Regions from separate parts of the Homo sapiens genome. Here regions 1 and 3 are each linked to region 2. The links come from fine-mapping of genetic effects on gene expression. A gene starts in region 2. Each other region holds a variant in brackets. All regions are shown on one strand. Distances are between the middles of the regions. Region 1 overlaps EPHX2 (epoxide hydrolase 2). Region 2 holds the start of EPHX2 (epoxide hydrolase 2). Region 3 overlaps EPHX2 (epoxide hydrolase 2).

Region 1 (10,396 bases), 39 kb after region 2:
TAGAACTCCTGGCCTCAAGTGATCCACCCCCATCAGCCTCCCAAAGTGCTGAGATTACAGGCATGAGCCACTATGCTTGTCCGTCTTTTCTATTCCTTTTGCTAGCATCCTATTCCCTCTTCAGGTGATAAGTCAGTGGTCTACTGGCTGGATTCCCAGGTTCTGGCCTCTCTGTCTGCTTCCATATGGTCTCTCAGTGCTTGATTAATCTTCCTGACCTCTCTCTCTGTGTCCATGTGGTCTCTCAGGGCTGGATTAATCATCCTGACTGCAACTCGGATCCACCCTCCCTTCTTCTGAGACGCCCTCATGGTTTTCTTGGTTCTTACAGCACCAAATTCAGACTCAGGTCCCTTCATGTCTAGGCTCCCCACTGCCTTTCTGTTGTTATTTCCCAACATATTCCATTCCATGCTTGGCTTCTAGCCACGCAGACTGTGTGCTCCATTGAATACAGCTGCAAGCTTTGCCCCCTTCTAGAATTTGCTCAGGCTACCTTATGTTGTTCCCCTCCCAGGCCTTGTTCTCCTCCCCAGCTCTCCCCATTCTGAAAAGCCAAGTTCAAATGCTCCCTTTTCCACAGGGTCCTCCATGATGCCCAGTTCAGGAATTCCTTATCTCCTTCCAACTCCTATGCTATTTTGTGCTATTCTATGGCTCATATCATAGTCATCTCATAAGGTCACTGTGTGTTTTTCTATTTTTCCTTATTAAATTATAATGAGCTCCTTGAGGATAAAAACGATATTTTATTCATTTTACATTTTCTCTCCTCTAGTATATGCCATAGAATTATGCTCAATCCAGAGGAGACACAATGAGTGAATAAAGGGAGGGAAAAAAAATGAATGTATATTTTAAAACTAGAGAGAGATTCGTGTCTCCATATTCTATCCAGGGTTGCTACAGTATGTGTACTGTGTGTGTGTGTGTGTGTGTGTGTGTGTGTGTGTGTGTGCGCGCGCGCGCGCGCACCTATGTGTCTAAGGCAAGTTGGTGAGAAATACTGCAGTTTAGTAGGAAAAAAACCAATGGACTAGGAATCGAAAATCCTGAGTTCTGATCCCATTCTCCCATTCACTGCTAGTGTATGACCTTGTGCATAGAATGTTCCCACTCTGAGCTTCAGTTTTGAACTGCAAAGTCCTTTCTGGCTCTTGTAAGACTGTCTTCTTACAGGGGCTATGTCTTGCTGCCTCTTATTTCTGTAGGGCGGTGGCCAGTTTGAATACTCCCTTCATACCAGCAAATCCCAACATGTCCCCTTTGGAGAGTATCAAAGCCAACCCAGTATTTGATTACCAGCTCTACTTCCAAGAACCAGTAAGTATGGCACCAAGGGCAACAATGGGAGCATTAGTGTTTGCCTTTCCCCTTCCTGTCTCCTTCTTATTTGCTTTATCACTGTCCCCTTTAATTTTATGTGGCATTAGTCAGAAATGATTTTACAAATGGGCTCAGGTGAAACTGGCTGCCATGCCCAGCTGATCCTTCCCAGGCAATGGCACATTTCCGTGTGTGTTCGGGTGGTGAAGGGCCGGGGGATGTTGTACCCTGGGGGGATGGCTTCTCTGGTGTCTCTGCAATTGCAGAGTTTTGGGGCTCAATGCTCAGGTAGAGCTGCCCCTCCTCATTCTCTGGCTGAAAGGCTGGTGATTATGGCACCAGGGTCTAAGAGTCCTGCAACAGGCCCCACATGTGCTCTGAAGAATCTGAGAAGTTTCTAGGTATCAGTACACGTGCCACAAAGATGCCTTTCAAAGATGCCCCCAGATGTGGCTGATACATATATTGGGGCATCCCTGCCACTGTTAACTGGAATTCACTGAGAGCAGCATCAGGAGTCAACGTCACCTGGCCTGGTGCCCCGCCTACAGCTGCCCTCTTCTGTGGGAGACATCTGCTATGCATCCACTTGCAGGAATTATCCAGAGAGAATAAAAGATGTTTCCTGCACACTCCAGAGAGAGAGGAATGGAAGGAATTAATTAATCAGGAATGTGAGAGCGTCTCCCACGTTCCTCTCCCAGCCTCCACCTCTGCTCCTCTTAGGAGGGACCGTTTCCAGCAAGACCACAACCATCCCAGTTTCGATTCAACGAGTAACTGTTCTCCAACAATTATTTTCATTGATGAGACAGCATCTGTGTGAAAGGAGCTTTGCGATTCAGGCAATAACTGGACTCATTCACCAAAAGCTCCCAGCGGCATTTTGAAGAGACCTCGACATGTCGCATCCCACATACTACAGGGAGGCCTGGGCCCTGCTGTGCCACAGCCTGGTGTGTGGGAATCCACGAGCTTCCTTTGGCCTGAATGAAAGCACAATGTCCTTCATTAGTGTGAGATAGTCTCGATGGTGAGACTATGGGTGTGGTGTGTGGTGTAGAGGGCGTATTACTTTGCTGGGGCTGCCATAACAAAGGCTAGGTAGCTCAACAGACTGGGCAGCTTCAACAACAGAAATTCACAGTCTTATAGTTTTAGAAGCTGGAAGTTCAAGATCAGGGTATTTGTAGAGTTGGTTTCTCTTGAGGCCTCTCTCCTTGGCTTGTGGGTAGTCCTCTTCTCCTTGTTTCCTCATATGGTATTTAGCCCATTAAAAAAAATTTTTTTTGAGACAGGATCTCACTCTGTCACTCAGGCTGGAGTGCAGTGGTGTGATCATAGCTCACTGCAGCCCCGACCTCTCCAGGCCCAGATGATCCTCCCATATCAGCCTCCTGAGTAGCTGAGACTACGGGTGTGTGCCCCCACACCTGGCTCACTTTTTGTGTGTGTATTTTTTATTTTTATTTTATTTTATTTGAGGCGGAGTCGCCCTCTGTTGCCCAGGCTGGAGTACAGTGGCGCAATCTCGGCTCACTGCAACCTCCGCCTCCTAAGGTTCAAGCAATTCTCCTGCCTCAGCCTCCTGAGTAGCTGGGTCTAAGGTGCATGCCACCACTCCCGGCTAGTTTTTTGATTTTTTTGTTTGTTTGTATTTTTAGTAGAGACGGGGTTTCACCATATTGGCCAGACTGGTCTCGAACTCCTGACCTCATGATCTGCCCGCCTCGGCCTCCCAAAGTGCTGGGATTACAGGTGTGAATATATAGAGACGGGGTTTCACCATGTTAACCAGGCTGGTTTCAAACTCCTGGGCTCAGGTGATCCACATGCCTCGGCCTCCCAAAGTGCTGGGATTATAGGTGTGAGCTACTGCACATGGCCTAAAATATTTTTAATTGTGGTAAAACACATGTAATGTAAAATTGACCATGTCACCTATTTGTAAGTGTGCAGTTCTGTGGCATTAACCACATGTACATTGTTGTGCAGCCATCACCACATCCACCTCCAGAACTTTTTCATCTTCCCAACTGAAGCCCTTCGCCCATTAAACACTAACTCCTCATCTCCCCTCCTCCCAGCCCTGGCAGCCACCATTCTACTTTCTGTCTGTATGATTTTGACTCCTCTAGGAACCTCATATAAGTGGAAGCATGCAGTATTTGTCCTTGTGTGACTAGTTTCTTCCACTTAGCATCATGCTTTCAAGGTTCACCCATGTTGTAGCAGGGGCCAGAACTGCCTTCCTTTTTAAGGCTGAATAGTATTCCATGGTGTGTATAGACCACATTCTCTTAATCTGGTCATCTGTCAATGGGTTACAGCTACAGCTGTTTTTGAGCTCTTATGTGCCACGTGGTTCTAATCTTCACAGCAACACGAAGAATTCTCTCCTATCTTCTCAGCTGAGCAAACCGAGGCTCAGAGGGCTTAACCCCAACTGGCCCAAGACCAGGTACATGATTGGGTCAGGATATCGACCTAGGCCTGTTTGACTCCAAAGCCCATGCCTCCAACTAAGCCATGCTGGAGGGGAGCTTGGGCTTTGTTCTGTGCGCTATGGGGAGTCAAGCAGAGAGAGGAGGGACAAATCAGGATAGGCTCAAAATCCTGATTGCAAAAGTGACCTTAGGAGAAAGACGCTTAGTAATTACAGCCCTTGTCAAGGCACAGTTTTTTGTTTCAAAGGTTGTTAACAGTTATTGTGGAAAAATCAGTACCTCTATTCTGTTGTAGCAGCTGGGTTTAAAATCTGCAGTGAGAGTTTTGGGGACAGTTTTGTTCTTAAGAACAAAGCGCCTTGGCAGGGAAATGTTAGATATTCAAATTAGTGATCTGGCCACTGAAAGATACCCAGTAACCAGGTTGGGCTGCATCCAGCCACTGGAACCACTCAATAGGTACAGAGCTGGGACTGGAGGAGAAATCACTCACAGGGGTTCCTGCCAGCCTGCCTGATACCTACTCTCTAAGGAACAAGTAGGCAAAGGCACTTCCCATCCCTGGCCCTCAGTTTCCTCATCTGCAAAAGGTTGGTTTTGGGTGGTTTTCAAACAGGTAATAGCTTCAAACTTAAGCTGATTCCAGGTCAGCAAATAAAGCCAATAACATGGAGAACAGCTCTTGGATGTATAGTGGGTGCTGGGAGTTCCTCCTTCCTGCCACCTCCTAACCCGCTCCCTCCCTGGCCAGGAGGAGGCATTTCTGACATCTCCTCCTTCTCCCTAGGAGCACTGAGGCTGTTCCAGACCCATGCAGCCTAAGGAAGACTCCTTCTGTGCTGTGGGTGCACCCGTCTCCCCCACTTATTTTTTTATTATTATTATTATTTGAGACAGAGTCTCACTGTGTCGCCCAGGCTGGAGTGCAGTGGCACAATCTCGGCTCACTACAACCTCCAGCTCCCAGGTTCAAGCGATTCTCCTGCCTCAGCCTCCCGAGTAGCTGGGATTACAGGCACCCACCACCATGCCTGGCTAATTTTTGCATTTTTAATAGAGACAGGGTTTCACCATGTTGGCCAGGCTGGTCTTGAACTCCTGACCTCAGGTGATCCATCCTCCTCGGCTTCCCAAAATGCTGGGTGAGCCACTGCGCCCAGCCCCATCTCTCCCACTTCTGGGTCATCTCTGCTGAGCACTGCAGGGTGAGGCTTAGACTAACTCCAAGTTTAGAGTCAGCTCCCATATAGCTCTTTGAACCCTTAGCCAACGTGCTGAATCTTGGCCTGGGAATCTGCCAAGTCTGCTGGAAACAAACAAGGCTTGCTTTTCTTGCCTTCTCAGAGAAGAGGTGACAGCTTTCCATGTGTATAGTGAGAAAGCATGAAGACTAGGCAGCTCTGGCAGCGAAGGCCAGTGGAATCGGCTGGGTCATTTCAGCTTAGCTGTTCCATGTTTTAATTCTGAGGATTCCCAAAGTCCTCACTTGGCCTGGGGGATACTCACACCCCATTATGCCCCCCATACCAGAACGTACCTAGGATATCCTGTGAACCCTGCTCTCTCCCACCTCACGACACTGGTCCTCTTTACTTGTCCTTAAACCGCACATGTGTATTTTTATTTCTTTGAGGAAGACTGGGTGGCAGGCACCTGTGTGTGTGTCTGGAAACATATAGCAAGCTAGAGGCAGATTTCAGGCAAAAAAAAATGCTCTTTTGGGCTGGGCGTGGTGACTCACATCTATAATCTCAGCAGACAGGTGGATCACCTGAGGTCAGGAGTTTGACACCAGCCTGGCCAACATGGTGAAACCTCGTCTCTACTAAAAATACAAAAGAGCTGGGTGTGGTGGTGCATGCCTGTAATCCCAGCTGCTCGGGAGGCTGAGGCAGGAGAATCTCTTGAACCTGGGAGATGGAGGTTGCAGTGAGCTGACATCGCAGTACTGCACTCCAGCCTGAGCAAAAAAAAAAAAAAGAAAAAGAAAAAAGAGCCCTTTTATTTAAGTATTTAACCAGAAGAGAAACTAAGGATCAGAGAGAAAATGTGGGAAAAGAAAAATTGTAGGCAGAAGGTTTTACCTGGCTGAAAATCATCCACAAATGATTTTCTTTCTCCTCAAAACATTGAGTCTCTCTCTCTTTTTTTTTTTTTCTGCTGTGTTGCCCAGGCTGGTCTCTAAGTCCTGGCGTCAAGTGATCCTCCCACCTCAGCCTCCCAAACTGCTGGGATTACAGGTGTGAGAGCTGCCATGCCAGCCTAAATGTTGAATCTTTCTTAATCTCTAGAACACAGTAGCTCCTTCAGGCCATGGGGACAGCTGGTGATTAGTTACAGAGTTTATTTTTTAGGTTTTGTTTTTGTTTTGAAATTATGAAGTAATTCATCCTTGCTATTTAAAAAAGTCCTGTGTTGTGTAAAGTAAAAA[G/A]CTGAATCGCCCTTTGCCCATCAACGAGCTACTAATAGCTACTACTAATAGTCTGGTATTTCCCAGACATTTTTTGAAATATTTAAAAACTATTTTTGAATGTTTTTAAGCAAATATATGTGTGTATGAGCACACACACATATATAATTTTTCATATAAATGGAATCATGCTGCTTTTTCATTTAATACATATTGCACAGATTTTTTTGTCAGCACATATAGATTTATCTCATTCTTTTTAATGGCTGCATGGGGTTTTGTAACAGGTAGACTATGGATTATGTAATCCTCTGTGGAGGGACATTATTTTGATTATTTTTCACAGCCGAATAATATAGTTTAAAAGAAAGTGCCACTGTTTGCTACCTTATGCACCAAGCTTTAACTATTGTTACTTTAATTTTTTTCTTTTTTTTTTTTTTTTTTGAGATGGAGTTTCGCTCTTGTTCCCCAGGCTGGAGTGCAATGGCATGATCTCAGCTCACCACAACCTCCATCTCCCGGGTTCAAGTGATTCTCCTGCCTCAGCCTCCCAAGTAGCTGGGATTACAGGCATGCACCACCACGCACGGCTAATTTTGCATTTTTAGTAGAGATGGGGTTTCTCCATGTTGGTCAGGCTGGTCTCGAACTCCCACCCTCAGGTGACTTACCTGCCTCGGCCTCCCAAAGCGCTGGGATTACAGGCATGAGCCACCACGCCCGGCTGTTACTTTAATTTTTATGCCCTTTATGGAGGAAACCCTTGGCAGGGTTATTTTCATTGTCTTAAATTGGCAGTGTTGTGTTAGGTTGTGGTGAAAAGAACCAAATATGGAGGGGTTTGGAGTCTGATGTTCTCATTTATAATCTGCCTGACCTTCAACGAGGCACTTAAGGCCCCTGACCTGAGCGTCTTCCTCTGTGAAATGGGCCTCACAGCTCAGGGCTGTTATGGACAGAAAGAGCTGGCACCATCAGCATGTGGCAGGCGGCCCCCAGTGCCCTGGGTCCCTGTAGAGCCTTCTAAGTCTTTGCTGTCCACCTCTTTCTCATCTGACCAGCCACACTGCAGAGTCAAAGGTCAACAGTTTGCTGTCTGCCCAGATTTCGGATGCTTCCAGCCACTGCCATTTTTGACCTCAGGGACAACCACCCCACTGTTTCTCTTGGCCTGTCTTGGAGAACACTGGCGCAGACTTCCAGAGGAATTGGAGTCATTTTTGTCAAGGTAGACGGAGCATGAAACAGAGTCACTGGCCCAGCCCGCTGACCAGCAGAGGCTTCACCTCCACTCCTGGATGGCATCCTTTGGCGTTACTTGTAAAGGGCAGGAGGGCTGAGTGGGGGCTTCGTGGACCTGCAATTTGGCTTCAACAGCTGCCTCCATTGTCTCACCCACAAAACAATAGCCACAGTTAAGTGCAGCCTCTCAGCAGACCTGTTCTCTACCTTGGAAAGGACACAAGAGAAGATTAAAGAGGAGAAACTCCTGGGATGGTGGAGGGGAGCTCTCCCTGTTAGGAGGGCTGAGCACAGGAGGCAATCCTGTGCCCTCCACCAATGTGGGGGCACCTCCCTGGCAAATTAGGTGACTGACAGTGCCGCCCCTACCAGCGCTGAGTGGAAAGTCTAGACAAAACTCCATCTTTTTGTGGTGCCCTGCATTTCTGGGGGCTCCTCTGACAGTGTGCTGAATACGCACATGGGAAGTAAATTGAGAGGATGAGGGAAGTCCAGGGCACCTTGGATCCTGGGACCCTCCAGACCCCCACCCTGCGGTTGGCACACCTGCTGCCTGTTGCTCCTGGGGGTGGTGCCTGGGCCCCCTGAGCCCAGGGTAATGAAGACCCTGGCCCCTTTCCCTCCTCACCCTCTCCCCTCAGCCCCCACATCAAGATACCCCCTGGAGACATGCTTTAGTGTAAGCTGGGGGCCAGAAATGGGAGGAAAATAACAGAAGATAACATTTGTCCTCTGCTTATGTGCTTAGCTGAGACCTTCTGACTCTTTTTAATCTACAAAAGGTAAGACCGTATCTTTAAATCCTACAGACCAATGACAAATTTCCTGCCTGCTCTGGATAGGGGCTTCTCCTTTTGTGTTCCCACTCCCGGGGCTGCCATAACAAAGTACCACAAGCTGTGAGTTAGAACCACAAAAGTGAATTCTCAACAGTTCTTGAGGCTAGATGTTCAAAATCAGGGTCTCGGCAGGGTTGGTCCCTTCTGGGGGCTCCCGAGAGAGAGTCCATTTCATGCCTGTCTCCCAGCCCCTGGCCGTTGCTGGCAATTCCTGGTGTTCCTCAGCTTGTAGACACATCACGCCCGTCCCTGCCTCCGTCTTCATGTGGCATCCTCCCTTCTGTGTCTCTGTATGTCTCAATTTCCCTCTTTCTCTCATAAGGACACAGGTCATTAGATCTAGGGCCCAATCTAAAGCCAAGATGATATCATTTAAAGAACCCTAATTAGATATTAATTTAAAATTTTAAAAAATCAGCCAGGTGCAGTGGCTCACACCTATAATTCCAGCACTTTGGGAGGCCAAGTGGGAGGATCACTTGGCCAGGACTTTGAGACCAGCCTGGGCAACATAGCCAGACCCCGTCTCTACAAAAATGTTTTAAAAGTTAGCCAGGCATGGTGGTGCACACATGTAATCCCAGCTCCTCAGAAGACTGAAGCGAGAGCATCACTTGAGTCCAGGAGTTTGAGGATGTAGTAAGCCATGATTGCACTACTGCACTCCAGCCTGGGCAACAGAGCAAGACCCTGTCTCTAAACGAATAATAATAATAATGGAGATAATGATATTAATATTTATTGGCATGCCTCCTGCATGTCAGGCATTGTAAGAAATGGGCATTATCTCATTTAATCCTTACAAAATCCCCATTTTACAGATGAGGAAACCGAGGCTCTAGGGAAAGAAGTTCCCCAGCTGGTAACTGTCAGTACTTGGGCTTGAAACTGTGTTTATTGGATTCTAAAGTCCATCCTTTAACTTCTGTGCGCAGGAACACAGAAGGAGGAGCCCCTCTCCAGGGCAGACAGGAAATTTGTCATTGGTCTGTAGGATTTAAAGATATAGTCTTATCTTTTGTAGATGAAAGAGAGTCGGAAGATCTCAGCTAAGTGCATAAGCAGAGGACAAATGTTATCTTCTCTCCTTTCTGGCTCCCAGCTTCATCCTATTCTTTCTGTTGCTCTGCTGCACTTTTATGTGAGTGAACAGATTTATTTACCTTTTTTCTCTCTGATTTTTTTTAAGAGACAGGGTCTCACTCTGTTGCCCAGGTTGAAGTGCAGTGGCACAATCATAACTCACTGCATTCTTGACTTCCTGGGCTCAATCAGTCCTCCTGCCTCATTCTCCCTAGTAGCTGGGACCACAGGCATGCACCACCATGCCCAGCTGATTTTTAAAATATTTTTTGTAGAGTCAGGGTCTCTACTGTTGTTCAGGCTGGTCTTGAACTCCTGGCCTCAAAGTCCTCCTGCCTGGACCTCCCGAAGTGCTGGGATTACAGGCTTGTGCCACCACACCTAGACTCTTTGATTTTCTTTACTGACTTTTTGACATCGTTTGCCCTTTAAAGGATCATTTGAGGCAAAGCCCTGTCCAGGCTTCCATGGGTTCCTTCAAACACTGAAATGCACCCCTGAGCTCATGAACAGCAGCTGTTTCTGGGATGAGGACTGCTCTCAGTAAATAAGAATGATGACCGACAGCCACACACACAGACCTGACCAGGGCTTCCATCCATGACCTAAATGTGCTTCTTCCCATGGCTATTTCTCACTGTGGCATTCATCATCATGTTGCGGAAGGCCGCCATTGGCACCATTATAATTGAATCTTACAAAACGGAGGGAACTGTCATTAACAGGCAGACATAGCTTTCATCAGAAAATCTCCAACCCTAGATCCAGCACCGCCAGATGATCAATGTCTCCATTCTTCTGTGCTGCCACTGCACAGATCCAGAGCTCTCGTGAGGAGTGATGAGCAGAACAAAAAAGAGTAACGTCTCACTGGGCATGGTGGCTCATGCCTGTAATCCCAGCACTTTGGGAGGCCGAGGCAGGCGGATCACTTCAGGTCAGAAGCTCGAGACTAGCCCGACCAACATGATGAAACCCCGTCTCTACTAAAAATACCAAAAATTAGCCGGGCGTGATAGTGGGCCCCTGTAATCCCAGCTACTTGG
Region 2 (10,396 bases):
TGTTTGGTGGTTCCCAAGCTCTTGTACTGCACCCAGAAAGAATGAAGATATGCTGGACATGGAAGGGTGAGCAGGGTGGAGAAGACTCTTATTGAGCGACGAAACAGCTTTCAGCAGAGAGGGGACACGGGGGTGGTCCCCCTACCCAAAGGTGGGAAAGTCCCTCATGTGGCTGGGTCCGGGCCTTTTATGGACTCAGGATGGGGAGTGCATGCTGATTGGTTTGTGAGTATGCAAAAAAGGTTAAAGTGAAGACACCACTCAAAGGCGGGCATGACAATGCAGAAAACAAATTAGGAAAGGTTAGGTATATGTCAAATAGGTGCAGGGTGGGAACAATCTGAGGAAAGTGTGCCAAACAGGAAGACGAATTCTCCATCCGATCTGGGGATTTAACTTGTAGTTTGGTGTTCAGGCTTTAAACTGTCTTCGGCTTGGAGGTGGGGCTTCACCAGGGACCTGCCCCTATTTGCCCAGGCATTTGGCTGCCTCCTGCTGCTCTCAATAGTGAGCTAGGATCATGCCAGTGCACTCCAGCCTGGGCAACAGAGTGAGACCCCATCTCAAAAAAAAAGAAAAAAAAGAAAGCAGTTTCCTCAGGGGAGAGCCAGGTTTCGGGTACAGCAGGAGGGGAAGAGAATGGAAAAGAGGTTGAGGAAATGGTGAATTATGCTGATAATAAAACCAAGTTCCAGAAAGTTCCAGATGGCACAGTAGAAGGGTTTTTGGAGTTGGTGAAGAGTGAGAAGTGCCTACTCTGGCTGACTTAAGCACAGAATTTGAGGGCAGGATATCAGTGAGGGCCCTTGGGAGCTTGGAGAACTAAGCCTGGAAAACAAGAGCAAGGTCATTGCCAAACTCATAGCACAGAACTGGACTTGTGAAGACACCACTGCTGCAGTTGGGCGCTGAGGGCCTCGGGGCCTGCACCGTCCCTGCCAGCCAGGGACCCTGGCCGCTGCTGCTGCTGCCCTTGAAACTGCCGACCGACACCCTTCTCCTCTGGCCTGTTTCCTTCACCTGCTCCCACTGTAAGGGCTGGGTTGGTGCACCTGAGTTGCTGAATGGAGCTCACAGGCCTTCACTCTCACTTCCAGGCAGGCTGGGGAGTGGGCACAGGGCATTTCCAAATTCTGCAGTCAATGCGGTTCTTCCTTCTATCAACATTCATAAGGCCGGTATGCGTTATAGGGTTTTTATTACAAACTACAGAGCTTCCTCTCGGTCATATAAGCAGAAAGGTTCTTATTATAGGACATTAACACACAGAATCTCAGGGAGGACAAGAGATGCAGCTTTGGAAACTATATAGCCAAGAACAGCACAGTGACCGCAGGCCACCCCTTGGTGCAATTTTAACAAAGCCACCACTCTGCCCCAGCGTGGGCACCAAGTACACTCAGGACCAGACCAGAGAAGCTCCATCACAGCCTCCCCAGAAAAACTAGATGCTGCTGCTTCTGCCTTCGCTGAAAGAAAGTTCCCGCTCACACAGCTGTGGCTTTGGGCTGCCCATCCCCATTCCCAAATCCCTGGCGAGTATGCCCAATTGGCAGAGCCCGTGCACCTGGCCAGCATTAAGGAAGCCTGGGCAACATGTTGTTTGTGGATTCTACTGTGAGAAGGTAGAACTCAAAACAGTAGTAGTTCTCAAACAGTGAGAACTATCAAAATAGAAGATGTTGAAAGGATGTTGTGTATCTCTGAAGCAGAACTTCATCACTGCCAGATGGAATTTTCTCTTCTTCTCTACTCTACTCTTCTCTTCTCTTCTCTTCTCTTCTCTTCTCTTCTCTTTTCTCTTCTCTTCTCTTCTCTTTTCTTTTCTTTCTTTTGACAGAGTCTTGCTCTGTTGCCCAGGCTGCGAGTGCAGTGGCATGATCTTGGCTTACTGCAACCTCTGCCTCCCGGGTTCAAGCAATTCTCCTGCTTCAGCTTCCCAAGTAGCTGGGATTACAGGTGTGTGCCACCACGCCCAGATAAGTTTCGTATTTTTAATAGAGACGGGGTTTCCCCATGTTGGCCAGGCTGGTCTCCAACTCTTAACCTCAGGTGATCCACCCACCTCAGCCTCCCAAAGTGCTGTGATTACAGGTGTGAGCCACCATGCCCGGCTGGAATTTTCTGTATGTAAGAAAAGGTTATAGATGTTAGGAAGCTGGAAAATGACAAATAAGAAAAACGGCAAGTAGCCACCACCACTATTCCCAATCTCATTCTTCTCACTGCTCCAGAAGCCACCAGCCACTACCATTTGAATTCATTATTCCACTAAAATGGAAGATCCTTGACGGCCCCTATATTTGTCTGATTTATTTAACAATTGATCCCAAGTGCCTAGAACAGTGCCTGGCACATAGAAGATGCTTGATACATATTTGCTGATGGAATGAAAGACGCTCGTTCATTTGCCGCATTGAAAAAAAGACAAAACTTCAAGTGGTTTGTAGGTTTAGAAAACTGCCAGAGGTAGCTTTACTTTGAACTCCATGAGTATCTACAGTAGAGAGAAGCAGCAGTGTAAAGTCCTCCCTCCCAACCCCTAGTGGTTAAACAGATTTTATAAAATAGGGTTTGACAATCAAGGACTAGCAGGAAGTTGCAGAAGGCACAGGAATGGCAGAAAACCCAAAATAAACCTTAATGAGGTCAGTGTACATTCATTATGAATTTAGTGATTGAAATCAGGTGTAATTTATAAATTTTCACTACTACATTAGCCATCTTTTATGATTCATGCTATCACCTAAAACATATTTCATAAATATTAAAATTAGAAGACATAGGGGTTAGGATTTACATTTCAAAAAGCCACCCAGTTCCCATAGCCCTGCTGGGTAAGCCCTTATCTCTCTGTACCTTAGTAGCAGAAAACACAGGAGAAGCACGACCATGAAAAAGGGCAAAGTGCAGTGAAATGCAATTGAGACCTTTAATCTTTGCCTAAGCAATTCAGCCAGAAAGCTCTGTAACTCACAAGGCATTATAAAAATATTCCACACCAGAGCTATTTACAAGTTAACTGCTCCTGAATAAATAAAAGTCCATGTGATAGCTTCATGGCTTTCTCTTAACCAAAGAGGAAAGTAAAACTCATATTTCTATGTTTTTAAATTTTTCTTCTCAAAAGGGGGCTTTATGAAATCTAGTTCTGTAGGTATGTCGTTCCTCTACACTTTACTGCTTGTATAAATATACTTACGTATTCATAAGCAATACTGTGCTAGATGCAGAATTCAGATGCAGGCAACAGAAATCACTGTAGTTATTTTAAATAGAAACAGAAGAAAGGGATTTAAGATGAGAGACTGCAAGCCTACACAATCTTTGAACGGAATGGAGGAGTGAGCTCCAGACTGAGCCTTTAGGAAGGACTCCCAGAAAACACCACCATAGAACTAGAAGCTGCTATCTCTGCCTCAATCAGCAGGCCACCGCTAGAAACACGAACATATGGTTTGGCTGGGAGCCAAGGATCTGGAAGCAACTCCGTGGTCTCGGGACTGAGCCACTGAGTCAATGGGGATGCCAGTTTGTAAGATAGGGAACACACTAGGAGGAACAGGCGTGGGAAGTAGAAATGCAGAGAGAGTTCTGTTTTAGCCATGATAAATTTGAGATGCCTGTTAGACACTCAAGAGAAGATGTTCAGTAAGAAGTTGGATATTGACGTTGAGTAAGATGTTGAGTAAGAAGTTGGCAAGTCTGGAGCCCAAAGGAAACTCTAAGTTGGAGATTTAATTTCTTTCTTTTTTTTTTTTGGAGGTAGAGTCTTGCTGTGTCACCCAGGCTGGATGGAGTGCAGTGGCACAATCATGGCTCACTGCAGCCTCCACTTCCTGGGCTAAAGTGATCGTCCCACCTCAGCCTCCTGAATAGCAGAGACTACTGGCATGCACCACCATGCCTAGCTAATATTTTATTTTTATTTTTTATAGAGAGAATGTCTTGCTTTGTTGCCCAGGCTTGTCTCAAACTCCTGGCCTCAAGCAATTCTCCCACCTCAGCCCCAAAGTGCTGGGATTACAGGTGTGTGCCACCATGCCCAATCTGGAGATTTAACAGGTTTCATACTATATAGGTCAGGCTGCAATTTTCTTTCTATTTTTTAAAATTCAATTATACCTTTGAGATCAACTAACTTCATGAGAAACTAGCTTGCTGTACTCCCTTCTCTGCCTATCTTTCAGTCTTCAAATCCAGAGTAATCCAGTTTCTACCATAAAGGGCCCACAAAAAGTGTTCTGAAACATCCGGTGTCATCCAAGTCCAAAATTGGACAGCTTTTTTTTCAGTTCTTCCTGTAACATTTGGCAGTGTTGGCCACTCTCTGCTTCTTTGGCAAGAATCTCAGAAAACACTAATAACTGCTCCAGGCAGGAGCCTGGAAGAGGTTACCAAGCTAGAGAAGGAAGCAACAGCATAGCTTGCTAAGGGCAAACAGCCCAGAGGAAACCCACGGCTCTGGTCAATCCTGTTGTTGATTGCTAGATCCAGAGACTGTTGTAGACCTCCCAGTTACAGTGAGGTATCTGACAACCCCTCACAAGGTTCTTGAAGCTCCGTGGTGGAGGGTATCTTGGATAAATCCACAGAGACACATTCAAGAGTAAATTCTCCACTGTTGGAGACCTCACTCACTCTGTTTGGTCTCCACCAAAGACACGGTTTTTAATTCATGGAGCTGCACTACAACAGCTCAAGAACTCCCAGCCAAAGTTTTAGTTTTTCTAGGAACATAAACGAGCCAATAGTGTGGAAATCGGTGATTAAAAACAAACCTCGCACATTTTAAGACAGAATTATTACAAGTAGCATGTACAAAAGGAAAATAATAGCCTACATTTAGTTCTTCTAAGCTTCATTCCACAAGAGATTGAAATCGAAGTATTCTGGGCTGGCACACGATAGCTGGAACATCATATTTTATTCTAGAAACACATTTGCCTTGGCAAAGAAGAGCGTGCCTAGAGGAGTGGTCAGGATAGTGAGGGATCTGTGATCCTTCGTTCTGAATCTAGAAAAGTCACTGGATATGCCCCTCCCCCGCCCCCCAACACGGTCTTATGTTCTGAATGTAGAAGTCACTGGATGTGCTGACACACACACACACACACACACACACACACACACACACACACACACACACACACAGAGTCTGTGGCCTCTTTCCCAGGCATTCCAAGTCCAGCAAGTTCGCAGGGAGCTGTCAGTCCGTCCAGGAAGGCCCGGGCCTGGGTTTGCCTCTTCAAGCAGCTACTGCAGGGGCGTGGGGAGGGGGCATAAGAGACTTTGGACTTTCCTTTGAGACAGTAGAAAGCGTTACATCCAGAGGCGAGATTCTAGCCTGGGGTCCCCGCCTTCCCGGCCTCCTCTTCCTCTCCCTCTGACTCCCTTTCCTGTGCCCCTCCCCCTGCCTCTTTCCCGGCCAGAGTCCAGCCTTAACCCGGGCAGAGGGCGGAGTCCCGTTAAGGGGGTGTGGGGAGGAGGCGGGGCCAGGGCAGGGGCGGGGCAGAGCCGGGCCAAGCTGGGCGGGTCATGCGCCCTGGCCTTCGCGCATCTCCCAGGTTAGCTGCGTGTCCGGGTGCTAGGCTGCAGACCCGCCGCCATGACGCTGCGCGCGGCCGTCTTCGACCTTGACGGGGTGCTGGCGCTGCCAGCGGTGTTCGGCGTCCTCGGCCGCACGGAGGAGGCCCTGGCGCTGCCCAGGTAAGGGGGCCCAGCGCCGCCGCCGCAGTGGGTCGGGGCCTCAGGAGGCAGACCGCGCTGGGCTTGCAGCCCAGCTTTCAGATTGCTCCTGTGCCGGAGCCCTGCGAATCATGCGAATCATGAAACTGAAGACCTGGCCCTGAAGTCCCAGTGCATATGAGGAGATCCGTTGTCTTTCTAAATGTTCATAATTAAACGTTGCCAAGGTCTCCAAAATTGCTTTCTGTGAACTTTTCCAAAAGGGAGAGGAGTTACTCATGGAGCTTTGTGCTTCTGCTGCCTCCTGTCTAATGGGGTGGCGCTTAAAGATGCGAGCCGAGATTCAGGAGAGAAGAAAGTTCTCTCCCCAGGTGTGGGTTGCATGCTTACTTGTGTAATAGCAAACTGCAGCAACCGCCCAAAGCCACATCACTGGGAAATGGTAGATGGGGTGTGCAGAGTGAGAGCTCAGGGACTTGGGAAAACACCTGTTCTACTACATGAAAAAACCACCCCACCAGAATCTGAAGCTATTTATACAATATGGTTTCAGCTATGGAAAAAAGGTACATGCAGAAAAGTGCCTGAAAGAAATAGGCCAAAGTACATCAAATGAGATTAGGAATAATGTAATGATTTTCTTTCTCTCTCTCTTTTTTTTGTGTTTTTTTTTTTTGTAGTTTCCAACTTCTAAATTTATAAACAATGTATTATTCCCACATTCAGAAAGGAGAGAAGTATACTTATTTATAAAGTGAAAAAGAAGGCCAGGCATGGAAGCCATTGTTCATATCCTCCTTTTACATATGAGGAAACTGAGGCACAGAAAGAAACCAGCTGTCCAAATCACATAGCTGTTAAAGAGCAGAGCCAGAAATCCAACCCCAGTAGTCCATGTCCGGAGCCTTTGCTTTTAATATAGTAAGGAAGATGAGATGGCAAGTAGCTTGAGGGAAAGGCATGTAATCTCTGTGCTTTGGGAAGCTAAGGTGGGAGGATCACTTGAGGCTGAGAGTTCAAGACCAGCCTGGGTGAAAGAGCAAGACCCTGTCTCTCCAAAAATAAAAATAAAATTAGCTAGACATTAGTGCATGCATGTAGCCCCAGCTACTTGGGAGGCTAAGGCAGAAGGATTGCCTGAGCCCAGGAGTTGGAGGCTATAGTTGTGTCCAGAGTTGGTTCCTGTCGGTGGGTTCGTGGTCTTGCTGACTTCAAGAATGGAGCTGTGGACCTTCGCAGTGAGTGTTACACTCGTAAAGATGGCGCAGACCCAAAGAGTGAGTGATAGCAAGGTTTATCGTGAACAGCGAAAGCACAAAGCTTCCACAGCATGGAAGGGGACCCCAGCAGGTTGCCGCTACTGGCTGGGGTGGCCAGCTTTTATTCCCTTATTGTCCTCTCCCATGTTCCATTTCTGTCCTATCAGAGTGCCCTTTTTTCAATCCTCCCCGTGATTGGCTACTTTTAGAATGCTGCTGATTGTGCGTTTTACAGAGCGCTGATTGGTGCATTTTACAATTCTCTTGTAAGACAGGAAAGTTCCCCAAGTCCCCACTCGACCTAGGAAGTCCAGCTGGCCTCACCTCTCAATCCTCCCTCATAACAGGACACCCCACCTGCTACTGGGAACTGGGTGATGACCACTCTAGCTACTTCCTGCTGGATAGGGGCAAAGAAGGGGCCCTGCCGTTGTAGTGTCCTCCAGAGGGGAACTCTCTAGGCCAGTCAAAGGGCCAGTGGGTCAGTCTAGCAGTCCTCGGTAGAAGTTGTGAGTTAAGCTCATTTGGGGTTCCATTTGTAAGACCATCTGTAGCTTGATGGCCTTGATCCTGGAGGAAACAAATTTGAGGAGGAGGTTAAAAATACAGGGACTGAAGGTGAGTAATAGCAAGATGGCTGTCACGGGACCTAGAAAGGGGAGAAGCCAAGTCACCCAACTCCAGAGGTTGGTATAAGAATTTGAAAGGTGTTGTCTGGTTTCAGAAGCCTTTTCCTGTAAATGCCAGGCAGCATCCTGTACTATCCCTGACTGGTTAGTTTAAAAACAACACTCCTCCCCTAAGAAGGTGCAAAGTCCTCCTTTCTCAGCAGTGAGGAGGTCTAGACCTTAGCGGTTTTGGAGAGTCACTGTTGCCAAATAGTCTATTTGGGATTGTAGAGTAAGGATAGATTTATTTATTGCAAACTGTCTGAGAAATCCTTTGAGAGTGTATGGTAGTAGGATAATGAAGTAGTTAAACTGGCTATTCTGGTTCCTGTAGCAGTGGGCATTCCTAGCCCTATAAGTAGGGGTATTAGTTGTATGGTCCTGGGCTGACAGACTTGAGCTTTGAGGGGCACTGATAGGGTCTGATTTCCTGTGGCATTGTTAGTGTTGGGACTTAGGAGAAGGTGCAGGTGCCTGTCCAGCTGGTGGGAGGCAGATATAGGTTGAAGTTCCACATAAGAAGAATATGCCTTGGCTGGGTAGAATAAACTGGTTGTGTATGTTAAAAAGGTGTGTGAGTTTGTTTTCATTTTCCCACACTCCTAGAGTACTTGCCAAGGTAGCTCTGGTGAGCAGCTGGAAAGGGTGTTGGGAGCAGACTGAGTGGCTCCCTGTGCTCTATTTTCCCATTGGAGAAAAAACCGTTTTGTATCTACTAGGAACCATCCAAGAGAGTAATTGAAAGAGGGGATAAGAAGACATACACTAGTGGTGGGGGCGCTGCTGCAGGGGGTCCAGGGGTGAATGGTCATGCAGGGAGTATGTTTGCCATTACAAAACCCAGACTGTTTGTTAAACAGGGAGGAGGTGATGATTTTGGGGGGCCCTGAGAAGCAGACAAGCCATCTGAATGGAGGTGTTTGGGTGACTCAGGAGTTACTATGATCAGTTGGGGCTTGAAGTTATAGGGTGTAATTACACTGATGGGATAGTAGGTGCCCCAGGGGCAGGCCTGATAACAGGTTGTGTTGGATGCATAAAAGGGCTTGGAAAGTTAAGATGGTATTCGGTATTCGTGGTCACAAGGTCTTGTATGGGCTTTTCCTGAGGATTGTGGCCTCCAGGCACAGTGAAGGTGATATTGTATCTCTAGTGCCCTGGAAACTCCCTGAGTTACCATGGCTTTAAAAGCCAGACCATTGTCACTTTGTAAGCTTTGGGGAAGCCCAAATCTAGGAATTACTTCATGAATTAGGACTTTAACCACTTCTTGAGCCTTCTCTGTCTTGCAGGACAAGGCTTCATCCAATTTGCAAAGGTATCAACACAGACCAACAAGTATTGAAATCCCCTTGACTTAGGCATATGGGCGAAGTCTAACTGCCAGTCTTCTCCTAGATAGTGCCCTATTCTTTGTTCCCCCAGAGGGGCCTTATGATGGACCAAGGGATTATTCCTTTGGCACACCTCACAGGCTTTGACTACTTGTTGGATGGTCTGAAGGAGATTTGGCCCTGTAAATAGGGATTTGGCCATTTGATGAGTGTTCTCAATACCCATATGAAAAGTTTGGTGGAGGGTCTTAAGTATTTTCCACTGGCTGGCTTCGGGCATGAGTACCTTTCCCTCTTCTGTTGTTAACCACCTGGAGGGGAGAAAACTATGCCCCCATGAAAGTCCTCATTCTGTTTCGGTTGGGGAATACTGGGGCTTAATCTCTTGGAGAGGGTTGTTCCATACCAAGGGTCCTTCCGTAGGTATTTCTAATGGGAGGTTCCACCTGGCAGCAATTTTGGCCTCAGTGTCTGCCTAATGGTTTTCTTCTGCCTTTTCTCCTTCACCTTTTGATGGCTTTGGCAGTGTAAGACTGCCACCTCTTTGGGTTTTTGCACTGCGTGCAATAACTCCATGATTTCCTTGTGGTATTTAATGGGGGTTCCCCTGGAGGTTAGGAACCCCCTTTCCATATTGCAGCATTGGGCATGTAGGATTAGATAAGCATACTTGTTATCTGTATACACATTTATTTTTTTTTCTTTCCCAGTTCTAAGGCTCAGGTAAGCACCACTAGTTCTGCTAACTGGGTGCAGGTCCCTGGGGAAAGAGGCTTACTTTCAAGTACTGTTACATCACTAACTATGGTATAACCTGCCCTTCATATCCCATTCTCCACAAATGAACTTCCATTGGTATATAGGTTAAGGTCAGGATTAGCTAAGGGGACTTCTAAGAGATCATCTCGGGCAGCATAAGTCTGGGCTACAATTTGTTGGCATTCATGCTCGATTGGTTCCCCATCCTCTGAGAGAAAAGTGGCAGGGTTCAGGGCCACACACAAGCGCCTGGTATCTAAGCAGGCAGTTGTCTGACAGCCATAAATTTCCTTTGGCACCTAGTATGCCATTTACATCATTAGTAGTCCAGACAGTGAGATCCTTTCTTTGTATTATTTTGATAGCCTCCGATACTAAGATGGCCACTGCTGCAACTACCCATAAACAGTAAGGCCAGCCTTTTGCCACTACATCAGTTTCCTTACTTAGGTATGCCACTGGTTGTGGGGTTGTCCCACGAGTCTGAGTAAGGACTCCAAGAGCTATTCCTGCTCTCTCTGTGATGTATAAAGAGAAGTCTTGTCCTTTGGGAAGGCTTAAAGCTGGAGCTTGTACTAGGGCCTGCTTTAAGGTTTTGGAGGCTGTTTCTGCCTCTGGTTCCCATTCTACTAGATTAGTGTTTGCCCTCTGGGTCTCCTTGATTAGAGCATAGAGTGGCCTGGCCATC
Region 3 (10,396 bases), 55 kb after region 2:
CTCTGGCAAAGGATAAGGGAACAAAAGATGGAGGCACTCATAAGGCCTTGCGCAAGTTCAGATGGTCTGCGAGAGGCAATGAGGTCCCCACCTTAAAATGCAGACACCTGGCCCGGGGATGGGAAAGTCAACAAGTGGCTTTTTTTGCAGGAGGACTTTTTGTAAATAGCCCAGAAGAGCCCAGCCTCAGCAGGATGGTCACTGAGGAGGAAATCCAGTTCTATGTGCAGCAGTTCAAGAAGTCTGGTTTCAGGTAAAGAGAGCACAGGGCCCAGACACAGATGAGAGATGATCGACAGATAGGGATCTTCAGCCCTCAGGGTGGAGGGTGAGGCCCAGTTCTCCTCCACCACAGCCCTCGTTAGTGCCAGGCCAGCCTCTGCTTCAATGCCTCCAGTGTCGGGAGGCTCACTACTTTATGGTGCTCAGCCTGCTCTAGTTTGGGATAGCTCAGCTTGTTCTTCCTTATGCTTATGGGGCCCCCATAGGGCAGAGGGTTTTCACTACTTTTTAGTCATGGCTCCTCAGAGAATCAGATGGCAACTCTGGGCTCTTTCTTCAGAAAAACATAAAAATCCACATAAACTCAAAAAGTGCATACATTTTGGTGCATTTGCCCTACTTCCTGATGTCATATTAGGAGGGGGCATCTTTGCTCCACCTCCCAATGTCCCTCTCAAGTGGGCTCCCTGGGGCAGGCGAGTGGCCTCTGGATGGTGAGGCTGCTAAACCAAGTTCCCCACCATCAGCAACCTCCCCAGCCTCCAAGGTGACACGATGACATTCCCTGGAGGGTCCTGTAGGGCCGGCTTCTTTGTGTCCCAAAAGCCAACCTAGAGGCTGCCAGTTCACTCAGTGGAGTCCTGTGTCCTTGCACAAGGCCTTGCTGCTAGAGCTTGGCAACTGCGCCCGACAGCAAGGCGTGGGTCCTGGGCTCTATTCTCTTGCCCCTGCAGGAGGCTTTGCTCTTCCCAGGACGACTGGCTGTGCAGAGCAGGTTTCTGCTGGTGTCTGTAGCAGAGCCGTCTACTTACTGCCTCCCTCTTTTTACTTTCTGATCTCTCCCCAGAGGTCCTCTAAACTGGTACCGAAACATGGAAAGGAACTGGAAGTGGGCTTGCAAAAGCTTGGGACGGAAGGTGAGTGCCAGGTTCAGTGTAGTCTCATCCACACCCCAGGACCCGCCCGCGGGGCTTCCCATTGGCCTGAGCTGATATGACCTGGGCCAGAGCTGGTTGTGGACAGATCTGCTGGCCACCTCCTTTCCCTTTGGGGTTTGGGAAGTGACTCCCTTCAGGGGTTTCCCTAGGATCTTTCTTGCTGGTGCTTCTCTTGGGATGGTAGAGGGTGACCTTGGGGATGGAGCTGGGGTGTGTCCAGGGAACTGCAGCATCCATCCGGAATCCCCAGGTCCCCTGGTGGTACCCCAAGGCAGGGCTGCAGATGGCCTGGGGCACCTCCCAGAAGTGACATGGATACTGGAGCCCCCAGCCCAGAGGAGCGTTAGGTGCTCTCAGAGATGTGACTTTAGCCTTCGGTTGTGTCACCTTGCACAAGTCAATCTCTGAGTCTCAGTTTCCTCATTTGTCAAGCAGAAGATGAGTTTCCAATCTCTGGGTCTGCAGAAGGAGTAATGGAGGTTCCCAGTTTACATTCAAAATGTTTAAAAATCTAAGGGAAATCTGTTCCCCAGTGTGACTGCACAGGTAGCTAGGCCTTCATCAGCTCACTCAGTAGCCATGGTTACCTTGTTGGTTCACTCTGTAAGTGAACACACTGCTACATGCCAGACTTCCTGCCAGACCCTGGGATACCATGGTGTGTAAACAGACCAGGTCTTGACCTCCCAAAATTAAGTCTTGAGGCACTAGAGTATATAACATCGTGGTTAAGAGCAGGCTAGGAAGCACATGGGCTGAGTCTAATCCCTGTGTGACCCTGGGAAAGGTACTTAACCCCTCTGATCCACTGTGGCTTCTTCTGCAATATGCAAGTGGCAAGAACAGTGCCTCCCTCACAGAGCTGTGTAAGGATGAAATGGTTGAAGGCATGTGACCTGTTACAAGCAGTACTGGGAACCTATTAGCTCCATTAGTGTTCCTTGTCATTATCATCATATGACCGATGAAAATGACCAAACTGCAGTTGGACAGACAAAATCTCTCAAAGCGTGGAGGAAAATATTGACAAAGGCGCTGGGAAGGTGAATCCCAATGGTGCTAAGGTCAGAAACCCTCCTCTTCTGCAGTTTATTTTTTGAGACAGTCTTGCTCAGTTGCCCAGGCTAGAATGCAATGGCACGATCTCGGTTCACTGCAACCTCTGCCCCCTGGGTTCAAGCAATTCTCCTGCCTCAGCCTCCCAAGCAGCTGGAATTACAGGAGTGCGCCACCACACCCAGCGAATTTTTTGTGTTTTAGTAGAGATGGGGCTTCACCATGTTGCGCAGGGTGGTCTCAAACTCCTGAGCTCAGGCGATCCACCCACCTCGGCCTCCCAAAGTGCTGGGATGACAGGCGTGAGCCACTGCACCCAGCCTCTCTTCTGCAGTTTCCAGCTGGATCTTCCTCTCTCCTCCCCCACCTCCTCCCATCCCATCCTCTCCCCCCCCCGCCCCCCGCCCAGTTCACATTTTAGCTTGGAACTTTCTAGAGTTTACAAACCTCATAGAAGCCTCAGGATTCGTTTTAGCCACAAAATCATTTTTGACCTTCTCCTGGCTCCTGGTTGTGGGAGGAGGGAGGGGTGTGGAGAGATGCCCATCACTCTGGGTGTAAATGAAAATAGTGCACGTTCCTCAACCAGGGATGGGTCAAAGCTGCTTGGAAATTAGGGTAATGGTGGAGCGAGAACAAAGGAAAAAACACAGAGGCTTTCCTGGCCTTCCTGTGCATGCCTCCCTGTGTTCAACTCATTTGCCAGCAATTGGAAGTTACTTTGCTGCCATTCATGTCACATTGATTACTACTGTGGCTGCCCCCATTTTCTCTGGAACCTTGGTCGCCCCTTTTAAGCATCTATTTAATTCAGGGAAGAGGAATCTTGATCTTCATTCAAGGGTGTCTTCTGCCTTCTTGGTGCCATCAATTCGGTTCTCCCAGTTACATGCAGCTCAGCACACGTTCTCACTCACACACATCTGCACACATAAGACCCATATTGGCCTCTGCACTGCTGAAGCTGTTATTTTAAAGATCTCCAGTAATAACCACGAGTCTGTTGTGCAAAGTTCGGCAGATACAACGTCAGGACCACAGCAGGGTGGCGAGCAGGGGTCTTTCAGAGGAGGAGGGAGGGCTTCCTTTGTGGAGTGCTGGCCACTTCTGTTTCCTGTTCTCCCCCCAGATCCTGATTCCGGCCCTGATGGTCACGGCGGAGAAGGACTTCGTGCTCGTTCCTCAGATGTCCCAGCACATGGAGGACTGGGTGAGGGAATGGCCCTGTACAAGGGTCATCAGTGCACCCCGGGAGAGGGCACGGGTGCTCAGAGGGAAGACGGCAGCAGAAGATACACCTTGTCATGTGGATAGGACCATGGTTGAAGCACATCATCAGTAACATCACTGTCCCCCCATTGCAAGCAGCAACCGTGACTGTACCTTCCTTTCCCCTGCATGGATGTGGGGTCTCATTCATTCATTATTCCCTTCCTAAATCATGCAGGGTTTGGGCAGGGTGGCCTGCGGGGAGCAGAGAGAAGGCGTCCATTGCCCATTGCACTAGCTAGAGACACACCCATCTGCCTTCTTCCATTTACCTTTCTGCCTGGGGTTTCCTTTCAGATTCCCCACCTGAAAAGGGGACACATTGAGGACTGTGGGCACTGGACACAGATGGACAAGTAAGGAGGTTGGGGGCTCCTGGGGTCGGGGAGAGCAGGGCCCCCCGTTCACCTTCCATAAAAGCTTTCCTGGTTTCATTGTGCTGGCTTTGGCCTGGCTTAGCCACTCATGTCACTCACCTCTGCCTTCGAGTTGGCTGGGTAGGTGCAGACAAGTGTGAATGGCTATTTTTTTCTTTTACTTCTCCCTTTCCCCCAGGCCAACCGAGGTGAATCAGATCCTCATTAAGTGGCTGGATTCTGATGCCCGGAACCCACCGGTGGTCTCAAAGATGTAGAACGCAGCGTGTGCCCACGCTCAGCAGGTGTGCCATCCTTCCACCTGCTGGGGCACCATTCTTAGTATACAGAGGTGGCCTTACACACATCT[T/C]GCATGGATGGCAGCATTGTTCTGAAGGGGTTTGCAGAAAAAAAAGATTTTCTTTACATAAAGTGAATCAAATTTGACATTATTTTAGATCCCAGAGAAATCAGGTGTGATTAGTTCTCCAGGCATGAATGCATCGTCCCTTTATCTGTAAGAACCCTTAGTGTCCTGTAGGGGGACAGAATGGGGTGGCCAGGTGGTGATTTCTCTTTGACCAATGCATAGTTTGGCAGAAAAATCAGCCGTTCATTTAGAAGAATCTTAGCAGAGATTGGGATGCCTTACTCAATAAAGCTAAGATGACTATGCTGCTGGCTGTCTTTGTTCTTGGAGAGGTGGAGTGACTGTTCACGGAGAATGCACGGCATGGGGATGAACCCTTTCCCTCTGCTTTTGAGCCCTGTTCTGGGCTCCAAGGTGCTGTATGATCTAGGCCGTGCTGGCCAGGAGACAATCCTATGGGGATGGCAGTGGTGTCTTGTGCTCTGTCCCCTAGAGCAGTCACTGGCCACAGGTAGCCACCTGCCTTTCTCCCGGCTTCCCTAGCAGAGTTTGCTCAGGCACAAATGTGCACCTGGAGCATTTGAAATGTGCTAGTGAGGCTGAGGAAGAGAATTTTAAATTTCATTGAATTGTAATCAGTTTAAAGTTAAATAGCAGCAGCTGCCATGAGGCTCAGGCAGATCCAGCTCATCTTCCCCTCTGCCCCCTCCTCCCTATCTTCCCCTCTACCCTCTCCTGCCTCCTGTCACATCCGGTTAGGCTCCCATCTCACTGATGTGTCTCCTGCAGTGGTCTCTCCCCTGCCCTGCTTCCAGCCCCAGAGTCCTGGAGCAGCAGCCTCCTCACGGGTCTTGCCGCCCACATGGTTGGATCCTGAAACTCGCAGGGCCTCCCCCAACTGCCCCTGCCCACCCCCAGCCCGGCCCCATCACCCTCCAATTCCTAACCGCCCTCCAGCAGCACACTTGCAGGTGCTGATCCTCCTTGACCCTCTGCCTAACTTACCCATTCTTTGCCTGGAATATTCCTCCTGCCACCTCCTCCAAGCCCATAGGCTGGGTTCCGAGCCCTTTCTGCCTGCCCCCCTTGCATGGTTATCGGGCTCACAGATGCACGCACAATGGCCTCGCTGCTTGCGAGAGAAAGTGGTCCCTCCAAGCTGAGTTTGGCATGATGACGGGCATGAGTTGGCCAGGTCACAAGAGCCTGAGTATCTGTGTATAGGGAGAAAGCCAGGAGAGGTTTGAAATGGAGGCTGCTGGCATTTCTTCACTGCCCTAGTGCACCTGGAGTCTTCCATGCACCACCTCTGATCCTTCCAGAGAGTCCTTCCCATTTAACCGAGAGGGAAACTGAGGTTCAGATAATTTGCCCAGGACTGCTTGGCTAGATGGGGGCAGAGCCTGGATTCAGAAGCAGGCTTTCTGGCTCCTAAGGCTGAGCTTTTTCTACAAAAAAATGTTCTCGTCGCGCCACTGCACTCCAGCCTGGGCAACAGATTGAGACTCCGACTCAAAAAAAAAAAAAAAAAGAGAAGTTCTCCTTTCTAAATCTGGAGCCAGACCACCTAGGTTAGGCCTCCGGTCAGCTGCATACTCGCCTTGTGACCTTGAAAAAGGATATCTGTGCCCCAGTTCCCTCATCTATAAAAAAGGGGACGTTAGTAGGACCTAACTCATGGGTGGTTGTATCAAGTATGTTAATAATATGCACAGAGTTCTAGAACAGTGCTTGGCATGGAGGAAGTGCTATGGAAGTATCAGCTATAAGATTTCCAGTTTGTCTTAGGACAAGACCTCTAAGGGCTTTCCATTTCCAGCCATGCCACCACCATCTCAATCTTTTGCATCTGAGAATTAAAGGGCTAATTTAAAGGCAATCATGAGGACTGGGGGAAAGGCTTACACCAGATCACATTATTTTCCTAACTGGGTGTATTCAAGCTCATTTGTAAGGGAGCAGTTGGGGGAAAGGAAATAATCAAAACCTAAAAGCGTCCTTTACTGGAAGGAGCACAAACAGCAAACCTGTCTTCCCGAAAGTCTCGCTTTTAATATTCTATCCAGTCATCTCCATCAGCCATCAAAAAGGCCTCAGAAATTCTGCTCCTTTGGCAAGTAAGAGTTGAATAACTCCATTCCATAGCATTGCCAGAAAATATAACTGGTTATACAAGATTGAGGGCTGTATCGGTCTGTTCTCCCATTGCCATAACGAACTACTGGAGACTGGCTACTTTATAAAGAAAAGAGGTTTAATTGGCTCACGGTTCTGCAGGCTTTACAGAAAGCATGGCTGGGGAGGCTCCAGAAAACTTACAATCATGGCAGACGGTGAAGGGGAAGCAGGCACATCCTACGTGTCTAGAACAGGAGGGAGAGAGAAAGAGAAGGGGGAGGTGCTACACACTTTTATAAACAACCAGATCTCATGGGAACTCACCATCACGAGAACAGCAAGGGGGAAATCCGCCCCCAAGATCCAGTCACTGCCCACCAGGCCCCACTTCCAACATCGTGGATTACAATTTGACGTGAGATTTGGGTGGGGACAGAAATCCAAACCGTATCAAGGGCCATAAAGGACAGTGGACTGGAAGAGGTCTTTAGGTTTTTCAAGAAGATAGTGGAATGTCCAGGGCTATGTTTCCTGGTCTGCTTTGAGGACCTTTGGGCCACACGTCAACTGTTGCAGTGGTGGTATCAGGGCATTCCCTGGAACAATCAGGGAAGATTTTCAGATGCCATTTTAAGTACAAATGGCAAGGAGTGTGTTCAAAATGATTTAATTATAAAATGCTATATTTTGGGATTGAATTTAATTTGTAATTAACATACTAGTACATATTCATGGGGTACATAGTGATGTTTTGATACATATAATGTGTAGCAATCAGATCAGGGTAATTACACATGTCATCTCAAACATTTATCGTTTTTGTATTGAGGACATTTAATAACCTCCTTCTGGCTATTTAAAACAATGTATCATTGTTGACTGTAGTCATTGCTCAGTGCTATACAACGCTAGAACTTACTCCTCCCATCTAGCTGGAATTTGACATTCCTTAAATCCCTCCCTATCCCCCACCTCTTCCCCAACCCTTCCCAGCCTCCTATCCTCCATTCTACTTTTTACTTCTAGGAAATGAATTTTTTTTTAGCTTCTGCATGTGAGTGAGAACATGTGGTGTTTCACTTTCTGTTTCTGGCTTATTTCACTTAACAGAATGCTCTCCATTTCCATCCGCGTTGCTGCGAGAGACAAGATTTCATTCTTTTTTTGTGGCTGAATAGTAAAAATATGTTATTTTTATTTCATGATTACAAAGGGAATAGATTACAAGTATATTCCCCTCTGCTAAAAGAAATCGGCCCTTAAAAAAGAGGTCCAGCAGTCTTCATATTCTCTCTCACACCCTCCAGCAGTGGGTTGTGCTGCTCCCGGGAGGAGGCTGAGATCACTCACATATTCTGTCAAGGAAGGACCACTTAGTGGCTGTCAATTAGCAACATCCAAGGTTTCCAGGAGACCCGTCTTCTAAAAAGTGAGTCTATTAGACTAGACAGGACAAAAAGCTATTTCTGTCTGTCTTGGGGTATAGGGAACCCACGGTTTTAGACCTTGACATGACTGTCCACCAGTTTCCGTGTCGTTCACAGCCACATTACCATCAATACAAATTAAAAGCAAACAATGGTTAAAATATCTAGGTCAGAGGCTCAAAGGGTTTTTTTCCAACAGGAATTGGGTGACAAATATTATGCCTCACTGTTCAAAGGACTCCATCTGGCCACAAATGATAAAATACTTTCTTGCCTGAGCAATTGTAAAGTGTCAACTCCTGCACCCAAATGTGTAACTGTCTGTCTCCCTGTTAGACTGTGAGGGCCCTGAGATCGGGGGCTGCCTGTCTAAGTAATTCGTCCTGAAACCCAACCCAGCACTGGCCTGGCATATGTAAAATGCTCATTAGACGTTTGCTGAATAAATTGGAGAGTATATGCACAAATGGATGAATGGACAAATGCATTAGTTTCAAGTTAAAATAATTAAAATTTGATCGGGCATGGTGGCTCACATCTGTAATCCCAGCAATTTGGGAGGCCGAGGCGGGCGGATCACCTGAGGTCAGGGGTTCAAGACCAGCCCAGCTAATATGGCAAAACCCCATCTCTACTACAAATACAAAATTAGCTAGGTGTGGTGGTGGGCACCTGTAATCTCTGCTACTTGGGAGGCTGAGGCAGAAGAATCGCTTGAACCCAGAGGCGGAGGTTGCAGTGAACCAAGATCATGCCATTGCACTCCAGCCTGGGCGACAAGAGGGAAATTCCATCTCTATAAATAAATAAATAGCCTAATGTCCTCGAGGTTCATTCATGTTGTCGCATGTGTTGGAATTTTCTTTCTTTTTAAGGCCAAATAATATTCCATTGTATGTATAGACCACGTTTTGTTTACCTACTCATTCAGCAATGGGCACTTGGATGGCTTCCATATTTTGGCTATTATGAATAATGCTCTGAGCATCAGTGTACACATATCTCTTTAGGGCTCTGAATTCAGTCCTTTTGGGTATATATCAAAAAATGGAATGGCTAGATTATATTGTAATTTCTATGTTTAATATTTTGAAGAACCACCAGATGGTTTTCCATAGCTGGTTTCCATTTTCTGTTTTTTTAATATATAGAATGGCCATGTGATGTCCCATGATGGTTTTATTTGAATTTCCCTAATGATTAGTGATGTTGAATATCTTTCCTTTTTTTAAATTTATTTATTATTATTATACTTTAAGTTTTAGGGTACATGTGCACAATGTGCAGGTTAGTTACATATGTATGTATACATGTGCCATGCTGGTGTGCTGCACCCACTAACTCGTCATCTAGCATTAGGTATATCTCCCAATGCTATTCCTCCCCTCTCCCCCCACCCACAATAGTCCCCAGAGTGTGATGTTCCCCTTCCTGTGTCCATGTGTTCTCATTGTTCAATTCCCACCTATGAGTGAGAATATGCGGTGTTTGGTTTTTTGTTCTTGCGATAGTTTACTGAGAATAATGATTTCCAATTTCATCCATGTCCCTACAAAGGACATGAACTTATCATTTTTGATGGCTGCATAGTATTCCATGGTGTCTGTGTGCCACATTTTCTTAATCCAGTCTATCATTGTTGGACATTTGGGTTGGTTCCAAGTCTTTGCTATTGTGAATAATGCCGCAATAAACATACGTGTGCATGTGTCTTTATAGCAGCATGATTTATAGTCCTTTGGGTATATACCCAGTAATGGGATGGCTGGGTCAAATGGTATTTCTAGTTCTAGATCCCTGAGGAATCGCCACATTGACTTCCACAATGGTTGAACTAGTTTACAGTCCCACCAACAGTGTAAAAGTGTTCCTATTTCTCCACATCCTCTCCAGCACCTGTTGTTTCCTGACTTTTTAATGATTGCCATTCTAACTGGTGTGAGATGGTATATCATTGTGGTTTTGATTTGCATTTCTCTGATGGCCAGTGATGGTGAGCATTTTTTTCATGTGTTTTTTGGCTGCATAAATGTCTTCTTTTGAGAAGTGTCTGTTCATGTCCTTCACCCACTTTTTGATGGGGTTGTTTGTTTTTTCTTGTAAATTTATAGGAGTTCATTGTAGATTCTGGATATTAGCCCTTTGTCAGATGAGTAGGTTGCAAAAATTTTCTCGCATTTTGTGGGTTGCATGTTCACTCTGATGGTAGTTTCTTTTGCTGTGTAGAAGCTCTTTAGTTTAATTAGATTCCATTTGTCAATTTTGGCTTTTGTTGCCATTGCTTTTGGTGTTTTAGACATGAAGTCCTTGCCCATGCCTATGTCCTGAATGGTAATGCCTAGGTTTACTTCTAGGGTTTTTATGGTTTTAGGTCTAACGTTTAAGTCTTTAATCCATCTTGAATTGATTTTTGTATAAGGTGTAAGGAAGGGATCCAGTTTCAGCTTTCTACATATGGCTAGCCAGTTTTCCCAGCACCATTTATTAAATAGGGAATCCTTTCCCCATTGCTTGTTTTTCTCAGGTTTGTCAAAGATCAGATAGTTGTAGATATGCGGCGTTATTTCTGAGGGCTCTGTTCTGTTCCATTGATCTATATCTCTGTTTTGGTACCAGTACCATGCTGTTTTGGTTACTGTA

What was found.
Region 1: its variant is fine-mapped to the expression of EPHX2 in minor salivary gland (GTEx, PIP 0.98).
Region 3: its variant is fine-mapped to the expression of EPHX2 in esophagus mucosa (GTEx, PIP above 0.99). The same link has a PIP of 0.9 or more in hippocampus, iPS cells, ileum, liver, pancreas and sun-exposed skin.

What each region holds. Positions count from the first base shown.
Region 1 is chr8:27,524,151-27,534,546 of GRCh38, forward strand. EPHX2 (epoxide hydrolase 2) reads left to right here. Exons shown (of 19, transcript NM_001979.6): 12 at 1,212-1,323. Among named protein-coding and RNA genes, the nearest start is that of EPHX2, 38 kb to the left of the region's middle. RefSeq lists a silencer at 3,628-3,828. The variant G/A (reference allele first, on the strand shown) is at 6,205.
Region 2 is chr8:27,485,601-27,495,996 of GRCh38, forward strand. EPHX2 (epoxide hydrolase 2) reads left to right here and starts at 5,543. Exons shown (of 19, transcript NM_001979.6): 1 at 5,543-5,709. The coding sequence starts at 5,609. RefSeq lists a cis regulatory region at 3,286-3,600 and a silencer at 5,347-5,626.
Region 3 is chr8:27,540,404-27,550,799 of GRCh38, forward strand. EPHX2 (epoxide hydrolase 2) reads left to right here. Exons shown (of 19, transcript NM_001979.6): 15 at 151-253; 16 at 1,070-1,139; 17 at 3,346-3,426; 18 at 3,783-3,841; 19 at 4,041-5,161. The coding sequence ends at 4,119. Among named protein-coding and RNA genes, the nearest start is that of EPHX2, 54 kb to the left of the region's middle. The variant T/C (reference allele first, on the strand shown) is at 4,212.